Linked DNA regions of Homo sapiens: region 1 is linked to region 2. The links come from fine-mapping of genetic effects on gene expression. A gene starts in region 2. The other region holds a variant in brackets. All regions are shown on one strand. Distances are from middle to middle. Region 1 overlaps TARID (TCF21 antisense RNA inducing promoter demethylation). Region 2 holds the start of EYA4-AS2 (EYA4 antisense RNA 2).

Region 1 (5,394 bases), 83 kb before region 2:
CATTTGTATTTGCTAACCTGGCAATGAACCCTAAGAAGAATTCCAGGGAGCAGGCCACCACCCCTTTCCCTGCCCACATTGCCACTGCCCCTTCTAGCAGGCATTCCCTTGCTTGAGTGCCCAGAACTGGTTGAAGACCTGCCTCTTTCGCCCAGATGGTCAGGCCCTCCTTCCTCTGCACACACACACTTCTTTCTTCAAACTCCCACCTAAGGTGAGAATTGTCTCTGTGCCTGTCCCCTCATCTACTCTCCACCCCCAGGCAGGATGAGGGGCAACATGATGTCAGGAGCTGAGTCTTAGTAGTGCCCAGCACACCGGGGCTCAATAAACGCTTGGGAAGTGACTCAACCGCACTTCCTGAGCACCCTGGCTGACACAGTGAAGCAGGACCATTACCTTACTTTTCAGTAGAAAACAATAGGAGCAGAGACAATATGAAAGCATTACCCTTTCTGGAACATTGCCAGCACGCTCATGTCTCCCCATTCCTGAGGATACTGTATCCTCCAAATACAGTGGCATGCTATTTTTGGATTTCTTCTATCTTACAAAAAAATACATTTTTTTTTGTTTTTATTGTTATTTGTTTTATTGTTAATTTCCTTTAGAGGAACCTCCACAGAAGGCAGACTCTTTAAATATTATCTCATTTAACTCTCACAGCCAACCACAAGAGATGGGTAATGGTTAGGGATGGGAAGTTTAAGGCTCAGTGAGGTAATTACCACAAGGTAGCAAGAGTGCTCTCTTGCTACCTGGATGACTCAGGTACATCCTACTCTGAATGTGCTCTTTCCAATTGACTGCGCCGATTCATCTCACTTTTCAATCTGTTTGCGTCAGTGCCAGCTTCATCCTAGAGGGAGGCGGCCAGCCTCCAAAGTAGCCCCAGCGATCCCCTGCATCCTGGTATTAACATCCCATGTAGCCCCCTCCCACACTGTACCATGCTTGAGCTATATGACAAATGGCATATGGCAAAAGGTACACCACTTCTGAGGTTAGGGTAAAAGACTGCAGCTTCCATCTTGGGTGCTCTCTTGCTAGCTTGCTCCACCTCTTCCTCTTGGATCTCTTTTTGTGAAAAGCAAGCTACCATGCTGTGACTATTCTCACGGTGAGGCCTATGTGGCAAGCAACTGAAGACTCCAGCAAAGAGCCAGGGAGGAACTGATTCTTGCCAACAACCACTTATGTGAGCTTGGGAAAGAATTCTCCAGCCCATCAGGACTTGAGGTGACTGCAGTCCTGGCTGATACCTTGATTCTAATCTTCTAAGAGACCCTGAGCCAGAACTGTACAGCTAAGCTGCTTCCAGCTCCCTGACCCTCTAACGCTATGTGAGATAATATATGTTTGATGTTTTAAGCTGCTACATTTTGGAGAAATTCATTATGCGGCAATAGAGAACTAACACACAAGGAGACAAGTAATCCTCCAAGAGGTTTTCTGATAACAGTTGCGTAGAAGAAAACTTCAGATGTCTAAAATCACACTATTTAGCCCACTGCTTGCCTCAGCTCCTGAGATGATGATGGACAAAGACCTTGTCTTAAGGTGGAATACTGGGGTCTAAGCCTTGCTTCTAATGTATCAACTATGGAGAGAAAATCGACTTAGGGATCTTTTTTACACCATCTAGCAACTGGGGAGCAAGCATTCCCTCTTAAAGCCTTGACTCTCCCCAAGGCGCTGGTGGGTGGTTATTTATGGTTATTCTGAGTTATTACTGCATAACATCCACACAGGCAGTTAGCACAGTATTTATTGAGCAGCCTTTAATGATGAATAGAGTGAGAAACACCAGGCAAAGAATATGGTAATAACAGTACATAAATTTTATTTTCATTTAGCATGAAAACACCTGATTTCCTTCAACACTGTAAACATGTCACATTATTACACAGTGAAAGGCTGATGAATTTAAACATTCATGTGTACATTGTTTTGAATGGAAAATGTACTTTCATTCCACTTGCCTCCACCATTACAGATCATTTTGTTTTATTTATTTCACTTTAGCTTGTTTTAATTAAAAAAACAAAATCCGAGGAGAGAAAGTAACTAGAAGGTTTTCTCAGGATGGGATTGGTTATTTTCAAGACATTTGACTTCTTATTCTCCTCAGAAACAGAGAGACAGCCTCAGAATAGAACATTTTATGGTCAGAGTTGGCAAGTACCTCACGGTTTGTAGTTAATAAACATGATTAAACTAAATGTTCAGAAGGAAATTTTGCTAGACCATTTTTTTAAAAAAACAAAACACAATGAATGCACTCATTAATTATGTACAATTTTGTCATTGGGTAAAGAAAGAAATTTCAGGCTAGGAAGGCAACTTATTCCTAGACATAACGTTAAATAAATACGTGCCTTCAAACTTGAATTATTGCCCTGTAAAAAGACAGACAAATGTCTCAGCAACAGCTTCATTACTGTCAAGCTC[A/G]TGATTTGTTGTTCCATTGACATGATGATGTGCTTTCTAGCACTAAGGTCTTGTCTGTTGTTGCAATAGAAACTCTTATTTTTAGAATTTATCATTTAGTTATTTAAAAAAAAGTTATAGTTGATCAAAAAGCATGGTAAATAAGCTCTCAGTATGCGTGCCAGTATGGGTGTATTGGAGTTACATTAGAAATGGGAGAAAAGGAACACCTATACACTCCTAACTACTACGCTAGTCCTGTTAAGCAGAATGTTGGAGGCTTAACGTGATTCAGCAGTGCCCTTTCTATTTAACACATTGCTTGCCTATGGGTGGAACTGTCATAGGTCAGGGTTATAGGTCACACATTTTTCCAAAGAAGAAAAATTAAGGAGTGGTCATAGGATGTGGCATCCTATTCACTAAGTGAGTTCTAAATTGCATTTCACAGATAATTTGATGTGGTTATGGGATGGCGCTGGAATGCAAGAAACAGATGGAGCACTGCAATTCTAGTCCTGGATATCTGTGTTCTTAAGAGGTGTGGCCAAATCGCAGGGTGACACAGAGTGAGGTGCCAGGATTCATCCAAAGCACCACAGTTTAGAGGGGAAAATATTTTAAAGTAACAATGTTAAACTATTGTGAGACATTTGAAGCCCCTTTCCTTATAAATAACTATCCATCTCTTCCTAGTCTCACATGTCTTGGCCACTATATAGCTGGAAAGAGCAGAAGACCTAGGGAATAACACAGTCAGGAGTCCCAAACTCACTTTTTATAATTTGAGTAATCGACTCCAACATCCTTTCTTCTTTAACATCTTTTATTCTAATCAATCCTAAGCACTGACTAGAGGGCATGCTTTGAGCTGCTGGTTCCAAGAATTAACATTTCCAACTGGACATTCATGCATACTCTCTTGACCACAGATGACAGAAACTAAAGTCAATCAAGTTCAAGGAAAAAAGAATAAAAAAGTTTTGGGCTTACAAAACTAGAAATTCCAGGCATGGTCACTGAGTTGAAGTTCTGTCTCCTGACATCCTAAAACCAAATTCTCTGACAGCATCAACAGGGCATGGGTTCTGAGCTGTTTCCCACATGTTGGCTTCATATTCAGATTCTCTCTCAATGTGGTAGGAAAGATGGTTCTGGCATTTTAGGCTGACATAGTCACCAGAGATCCTAATCCCAGAAAGACAGTGCATCTTTCATAATGACTTTGGAGAAAAGTCTTGGGGTGAGTTTTCATAGGCTTAGCTTGGGTCCTGAGCCCATTCTTGGGCAAATAAATATGACAAAGAGGGTGGAATATGTTGATTGGCTAGGGTTCAGCCATATGCCCAGGAGTATGGTGTTCCCTAAAAAGAGGGATGCTTTGTATACACACAAAAGTCAAGTTTACTATGGAAATGGTAACCCAAGGAATGGGAGAAAATGTCTGCAAATCTTGTATCTGATGAGGAGTTAATATCCAGAATATACAATTCAACAACAACAACAAAAACAACCCAATTAAAACATGGGCAAATGATTGAATTGACATTTCTCCAAAGATATACAAATGGCCAATATGCCATAATCATTAGGTAAATGCAAATTAAAACCACAATAAGATATCACCTCACACCCATTAGCATGGTTACTATAAAAAACAAACAGAAAATAACAAGTGTTGGTGAAGATGTGAAGAAAAGGAATTTTTGCACACTATTGTTAGAAATGTAAAGTGGTGTGGCTGCCATAGAAAGTATGGCAAGTATGGTAGTTCCTCAAAAAATTAAACATAGAATTACACAAGATCCAGCAATTCCACTTCTGGGTACATATCCAAAAGAACTTAAAGCAGGGACCCAGTTATTTGTATACCCATGTTCATAGCATCATTATTTGCAAGAGCCAAAAGGTAGAGGCAACCTAAATGCCCATCAATGGAAAAATAGAGAAACAAAATATAGTATACACACATATTATTAGTCAGCCTTAAAAAGGAAGAAAATTCTAACATAGGCTACAAAACAGGAGAACCTGAAAGAAATTTTGTTAAATGAAATCAGCCAGTCACAAAAGGACAAATACTATATGATTCTGTTTATATGAGGTACTTCAAGTAGTCAAATTCGTAGAGACAGAAAGTGGAGGAGTTGCTACAAGGTACTAAGGGGAGAGGAGAATGGGAAGTTATTGTTCAATGGGTAGAGTTTTAGTTTTAGAAGATGAAAAGAGTTTTGTGGATGGATGGTGGTGACAGCAGCACAACAATGTGGATGTACTTAATGCCATTGACTGTACACTTAAAAATGGTTAAGATCGTTACCTTTATCTGTATTTTACCACAATAATAAAAAAAAAAATCATCTCCACTAGGCGGAGGTTGCAGCGAGCTGAGATTGCGCCACTGCACTCCAGTTTGGTGACAGAACAAGACTCCGTCTCAAAAAAAAAAAAAAAAAAAAAATCATCTCCACTATAGAATTTCAGAAAAGAGGTAAACTTGGCTACATAGCTTTTCTCCACTTACCCTTTAGGAACTTGCTTCTGAACATCTTCCATTCAGATACTCCTAAAATCATAAATCATGCTGACTCAATGCTCCATCATGGTTTATTTTTCCTATATTAGGTGGCCCCAGAACCTTCCTAATTCCCCACTCTAATCAGAAGCCTGTCCAGTACCCTTCTTGGAACCATGCTGTAGGTTAGGGAGCCTGTAAGTCTGTTGTATTAAGAGCAGTTGATATGCATGCTTAAAGGTGTTTTAAAAGGGAGGAATCTGCAAAATGTATCTTAACTTAAATGCAAATTAATTGAGCAGCTTTAATTGAATAGTTATCTCTTGGGCCTTCATATAGGACTGGATATAATTCCAATCATCAAGTCAAATAATCAGCTTAGGGTCCTTTTACTGCTTATCTGCAGAACTAACATTCCTACTACATAAAGGCCATTTCTCACATAGGCA
Region 2 (5,394 bases):
AGAAATATAGTTAAATGACGCTTGATTAAATATTCTTTCGTCTCTTCTTTACAGAATTTCTCCTTGGTACACTCAAGACTTGGGCTATACTCATCAGTTATTATCAATATTGTGAAATAGAAGGCTTTTCCAAAGAGACGCTGAATCATGAAGATAAATATTCATTATAGTAACCTTTTATAAATAAGACATAGACCAAAATTACACATTTCAGAAAAAACTCATATACATGAACTCAATTCTGAATATATAGGATGTTTCTTCTAATGATAAATCTAAACATCATTAGAATAATGTACTCACAACACTATAAAGCCTCAACTAACCTTTACAAATTTCTATTAACGTCTATATGTTCATTTTCTAAATAGAACAGAAAACCTTTGGCTCAGAAAACTACGATGTTCACGTAGGAAAGTTTATGCTTCTTTACTAAAATATATACATTTTGTTCTAATTCAGAAATTTGCAGATAACTGAAAAGAACAACAAAATTGGATTAAAGTGAGTGGAAATTTTGCAGATCAAAGTAAAGACTGCTCCCACAAAGGGCAGCCTCATTTCCAGAATGGTTTCTGGAATATCTTGTACAAACTTGAAAGAATTTCGTTTTATTCCCCACTGTCATCTGATTAATCATAAACATTACCCAAAACACTCATTACATTCCATCATTTCTGCATACAACAGTAAGCAAAACTGCTTGTTTTCAAAATGCCCTGAAAATTAATTTAAATACATGTTTAATATCTATTGTCAGTTTCTCTGATGGTGTCAAAGCAATTTTAAGGTTTCATTCTCATTATCGTGCCATCTTAGATTGGTGACTCTCAATGGGATGAGAAGTGGGTGGGGGTGAGAATTTTGCCTGCCAGGGGACACTTAAACAGTCTGGATACATTTTTGGTTGTCTTTAGTAAGACATCTTTGGTTGCTTCTTTAGTAAAGAAGCATCTGGGGGAGTGCTGCTGGCATTCTGGGATAGATGCAGCCAAACATCTTACAGTGCAGAGGATAGCTTTCCCACACTAAAGAATTAGCCCAAGTCTTTAACAGTGCTGATGTTGATAATCCCTGCCCTGGATCACTGCTGTGGAATAAAACTTTCCACAGTGTTGGAAATGTTCTGTATCTGAGCTGTCCAATATGGTAGCTGCTAACCACATGCAGCTGTTAAACACTTGAAATGTGTTTAAACTTGAAAATTCAGTTAAATTTTGGTTGCTGAAAATATTGAGAACTTAACGCCTCTAGTCGTACTTGATGATTTTCAAAATCAATTAATAAAAATATACTTACTGCAATATTGCTGTGAAAATGAAAATAAAAAACAAAATTTTTAATTTTATCAAATTTTAATAACCACATATGACTGGTGGCTACCTTACTGGACAGCACGTCCCTAGATACTTCTTTAAAAATTTGCGAAAATATCTACAAAGACAATATGAGTGAATTTCAGACAGGATGATTGTTCATGCCTATTTCTTTTTCCATCTATTTTCTGATGGGGCATTACAGAAAGGACCCAGGGACTGATCATAAGGACATGGTTTTAGATTTGTTTATACCACTGACCAGCTGTGAGGCCTTGACTGTATGGCCTTAACCACTTTTAACTTCTCTTGTCTACAAAACGGATCAGAGAGCTCTGAAATTCCTTCTGGAGCTAACACTTTATAGTTTTGTCATTCAGCTTTCAATTAACTTGTAGTATACTACTGAAGTAGGTCAGCAATAAGTTAATAACTCCATTCCTTTCCTTAACAATTTGTTCATATAGATTTATTTTGCAGAAAGTTTACAAAAGCTATGGTAAGTGTGCAATACAGAATACTGAACTGGTAACTATCTCCTGAGAGGCAGGTAAACTGCTAGAAAAGATGTGGATTAGTACATATGAGTCTCTGTGCAAAGTTTATGTACTATTATTTCTTTCTTGGAGTACTAATATTTATGTAAATATATGGCAACTGCTTCTAATCGGTGTGAACTAGTGAAATTAGATCATCTGTAAAAATCAAATATATGCTATAATGACATAATACTCTAAGACATATCTCAACTATTTTTACACAAAACATACTGACAAAAAAATCCTTATAACATGAGCACATGGATAAATGTAAAATGTATTAAAGTAGAATAACAGAACCGAGATTCAATTACCACAAATACTTTCCTAGGTTTAATGTTCTTCTTTCTGATGTACCCGATCCTCCTCAGGTTAGAAAAATCCTTTCACCAGATAAAAAGCCGAAGAAATATTGTAACTTAAAAAAATTTAATTAAGTCTACTTAATTCATGCCCTTTGTGCCCAGCTGGGAGTTATCAGGTATTTATATTTTAAAGGGATTGATGTTTAAAGACATGCTATTGTTCTCTTTGAAGCATTCGAGCGCTCTCAGAGGCTGGGTTCTAATGCAACCAGCATGTGCTCTCCTGCAGCCCATTAACCTTTAATACTTGTCACTCAGCTGCTTACACAGGAGGAGTTTTTTAAACCCAGAGAGGAAACAAGGTTATTTAGAAGGAATCAAATGGATAGTTTTACATCTCGAATGTTAAACAGAAGGCAGTTTTTATGTAATTCAAATGGGTAAGTTGAAGAAGCAAGGTCAGCTACTACAACTTAATTATTAAATTAATTAAACATCGTATAAAATAATTTTGAAGGAAGTTAAGTTTACTTATCCATAATAAGAAAGTCATGGGACTTTTGCTGTCAACTAAAATATCAAGCGAAATTATTCTAAATATAATTTATAACAATGCATACTGCTATGACTATGAGTTCTCAAAAAATAAGAATTTGTTTCTAACTTTATAAGGATCAAAGTTCTAAGAGCTTGGATGCTTATGTTGCTTATTCCCGAGGAGGAGGATGTGGATGCACCCCCATGTGTACGTAAGGACACACGAGCTAAAGGCTTTACCTGACCCAGTAAAAGTGTCAAGCGCTCCATCTCCAGTCGTGGCTGTGGTTTCACTGCTGTTCAAGGGCTCTGTTTTGACTGCAAGAAGAGACACTACGTAGAAGAATAAGTACATGTGAGTTTTACTTCTAAATTTATGTCAAAGACTCTGTCCGTTCTACTAGTGATATTTCTAGCTACCATGGGCATGCAAGAGAAAACCTGAGAAGTTGATGAAGAGAGTTTGTTAATTTAGCTTCTAAACGGGCATGCATTTAGAGGATTTAATCTAAAATCCTCTGGCCAAGCTAGTTCTCTCAAATCCAGCTTTTAAAGGCAGTCAGCCTTAAAAAGTGAAACAGCAGTACACATATTTGTATTTTTAATTCACCTAAACACACTCTCATATAGTCAATAGGAAAGAAGGAATCATCATCAGTCTTCAGCACATTTAATTAAAATTATACCAAAGAAATTTACTAGCTTATATTTTATTTTTCCCAGGAAGATATTTTTTAAGTTTGCATAATAATACAATGGAGACATATAAAAGTATAGAAACCATGGGCTCATTCACACAATGAATGAAAAATGAAGCACTCAATGAAGCTCTAAAAAAGACTCACGAGCTATAAGGTGTTGGGCTTCATACTTTAATGGCATAACAATTTTTAATATGTTTAGAGATAAGCGTAGAAAAAGAGATGACTTCTACAGCAGCAAGTACACCTTTTGAAAACTCATTTTAATATGTTATTTCTACGTGGTAATGGTGTATTTTGGCAAAATCTTTGCTTGGTAACAAAGTGGCCTAGTACACATTATTATCATTATTAGATGCAACAAGGGTGATGGGGCGTGAGAATAAAGTTTTACCCATTTGGTCACACCATATTTTCCCTTTGTTGGCAAGGCTTTACTACATATATCATAGCAGCAAGGAAATAAACTAAGCTATTTTCTACTTAACACCTCTTGTGTTTCCTGGTCATAAGTGAAATGAATGATACAGTTAAATAACTTAGAAGCAAGCAGAAAATTATAAAGAAGAAAGCTGAAGACTAGCCAAAGGACAAAAAAGAACAGTCAGTCATAGGGTACCCACCAATCACACAAGTCAGTAATGTTATTCTGTTAGAAAAGAAATTAATTGATAGAAAACCATGCGGTAATGATTATGCTCTTTTCCACATGAACAGAATTAACCAGACCTTCAGTGAGCTCTGGGTTAATTTAGTATCCATTATTTATTAATGACATGATCAGCTGGAAGATTCAGAGGAGAAATGTAAATGTTGGAAACAGAAAGTAAAGAAACTTGGATTACTTTTCTTAGCAAAAAAGCAAACTCAAGTTTGACTTATCTTTCAAGAGCAACAATGATCTGAAGAGTAGTCTAATTATTTATATAATGATAAATAATGAATTGGTGGTTATTACTTTTCAGTAGTAATTTGCACAGTAATCCCTATTATGGTTATACCTTATCAATAACTAAACCTATCATTATAAAATCATTTTATCACCTTTATATTTACTACTATAAAACTAATACTTATTGAGAGCTTGCTACGTGCTAGATGATGTACATTTAGCTAATCCTTAAAACAACTCTAATTAATACAAATCACTATAACCATTTTATAGACAAGGAAACTGAAGTTCAGGGGGGCTGAAAAGCCTGCATAAGTTCCAGTGCAGGAGACGGTAGAGCTAAGATTTGAACTCAGGTTTTTAGCTCTAGTATGCAGGATCTTTCCACCGTATCAGGCTGCCTTCAGGTACGAAAATAGCTTATGCTCATGACAGTGTCTCTTCTCAAAGGCCCAAAGCATGATGAGAATGCAATTATCTCCTAGATAGAATAATTAAAAATACTTCACTGAAAATAAAAACTGCAAAATACTGGAATAGGATACTAAGGCATGTTTCCCATTTCTTCCTCATGGGATATTTTAAAAGACATCAAGAAGTAGCAAATTTGAAATTAGGTAACAGTAACAGCACACCCTTAAAATGAACTTGATACATTCCAGGCACTTCTCTTGTCCTTTACACCTACTGATTTACTCCTCTCAACAGTCAGTAGATAATATCATCATCTTTATTTTTCAGATAAGGAAACTGAGGCACAAAAAGGTTAAATAACGTCCCCAGTCACAAAGCTTGTAAGAGCTAGAATTTGAGACCAAGTAGTGTGTGTTCAGAATCCAAACTCTTAAACCATACTGCCTCTCAGGCAGCACTAGCTAATCAAGAATTCCTTTTGTCTGTATGAAGATAATGCAGAGTATAATCTAGATGGGTATCAAGGCTACTCCATTTCACGCAATGTTTACAATTGAGTTCTAACATTTATGACAAAAAGTCATGGCCCAAAGCCTTCAGCAAAACTAAGAAACAGTTTATCAGAGCTTCTGACTTCTACTTGCAGCTAAATTCCTATTTATGCATATCTATATCTACGAACAATATTTG

Evidence for each region. PIP is the estimated chance that this variant, and not a neighbour inherited with it, causes the effect.
Region 1: its variant is the best candidate, but not a certain one, in a credible set for the expression of EYA4-AS2 in transverse colon (GTEx, PIP 0.77).

Annotation. Positions count from the first base shown.
Region 1 is chr6:133,537,599-133,542,992 of GRCh38, reverse strand. All of the region lies in intron 5 of TARID (TCF21 antisense RNA inducing promoter demethylation), which reads left to right. Among named protein-coding and RNA genes, the nearest start is that of EYA4-AS2, 84 kb to the right of the region's middle. The variant A/G (reference allele first, on the strand shown) is at 2,452.
Region 2 is chr6:133,454,192-133,459,585 of GRCh38, reverse strand. EYA4-AS2 (EYA4 antisense RNA 2) reads left to right here and starts at 2,981. Exons shown (of 3, transcript NR_199014.1): 1 at 2,981-3,052. It overlaps EYA4 (EYA transcriptional coactivator and phosphatase 4), which reads right to left. Exons shown (of 20, transcript NM_004100.5): 6 at 2,938-3,030.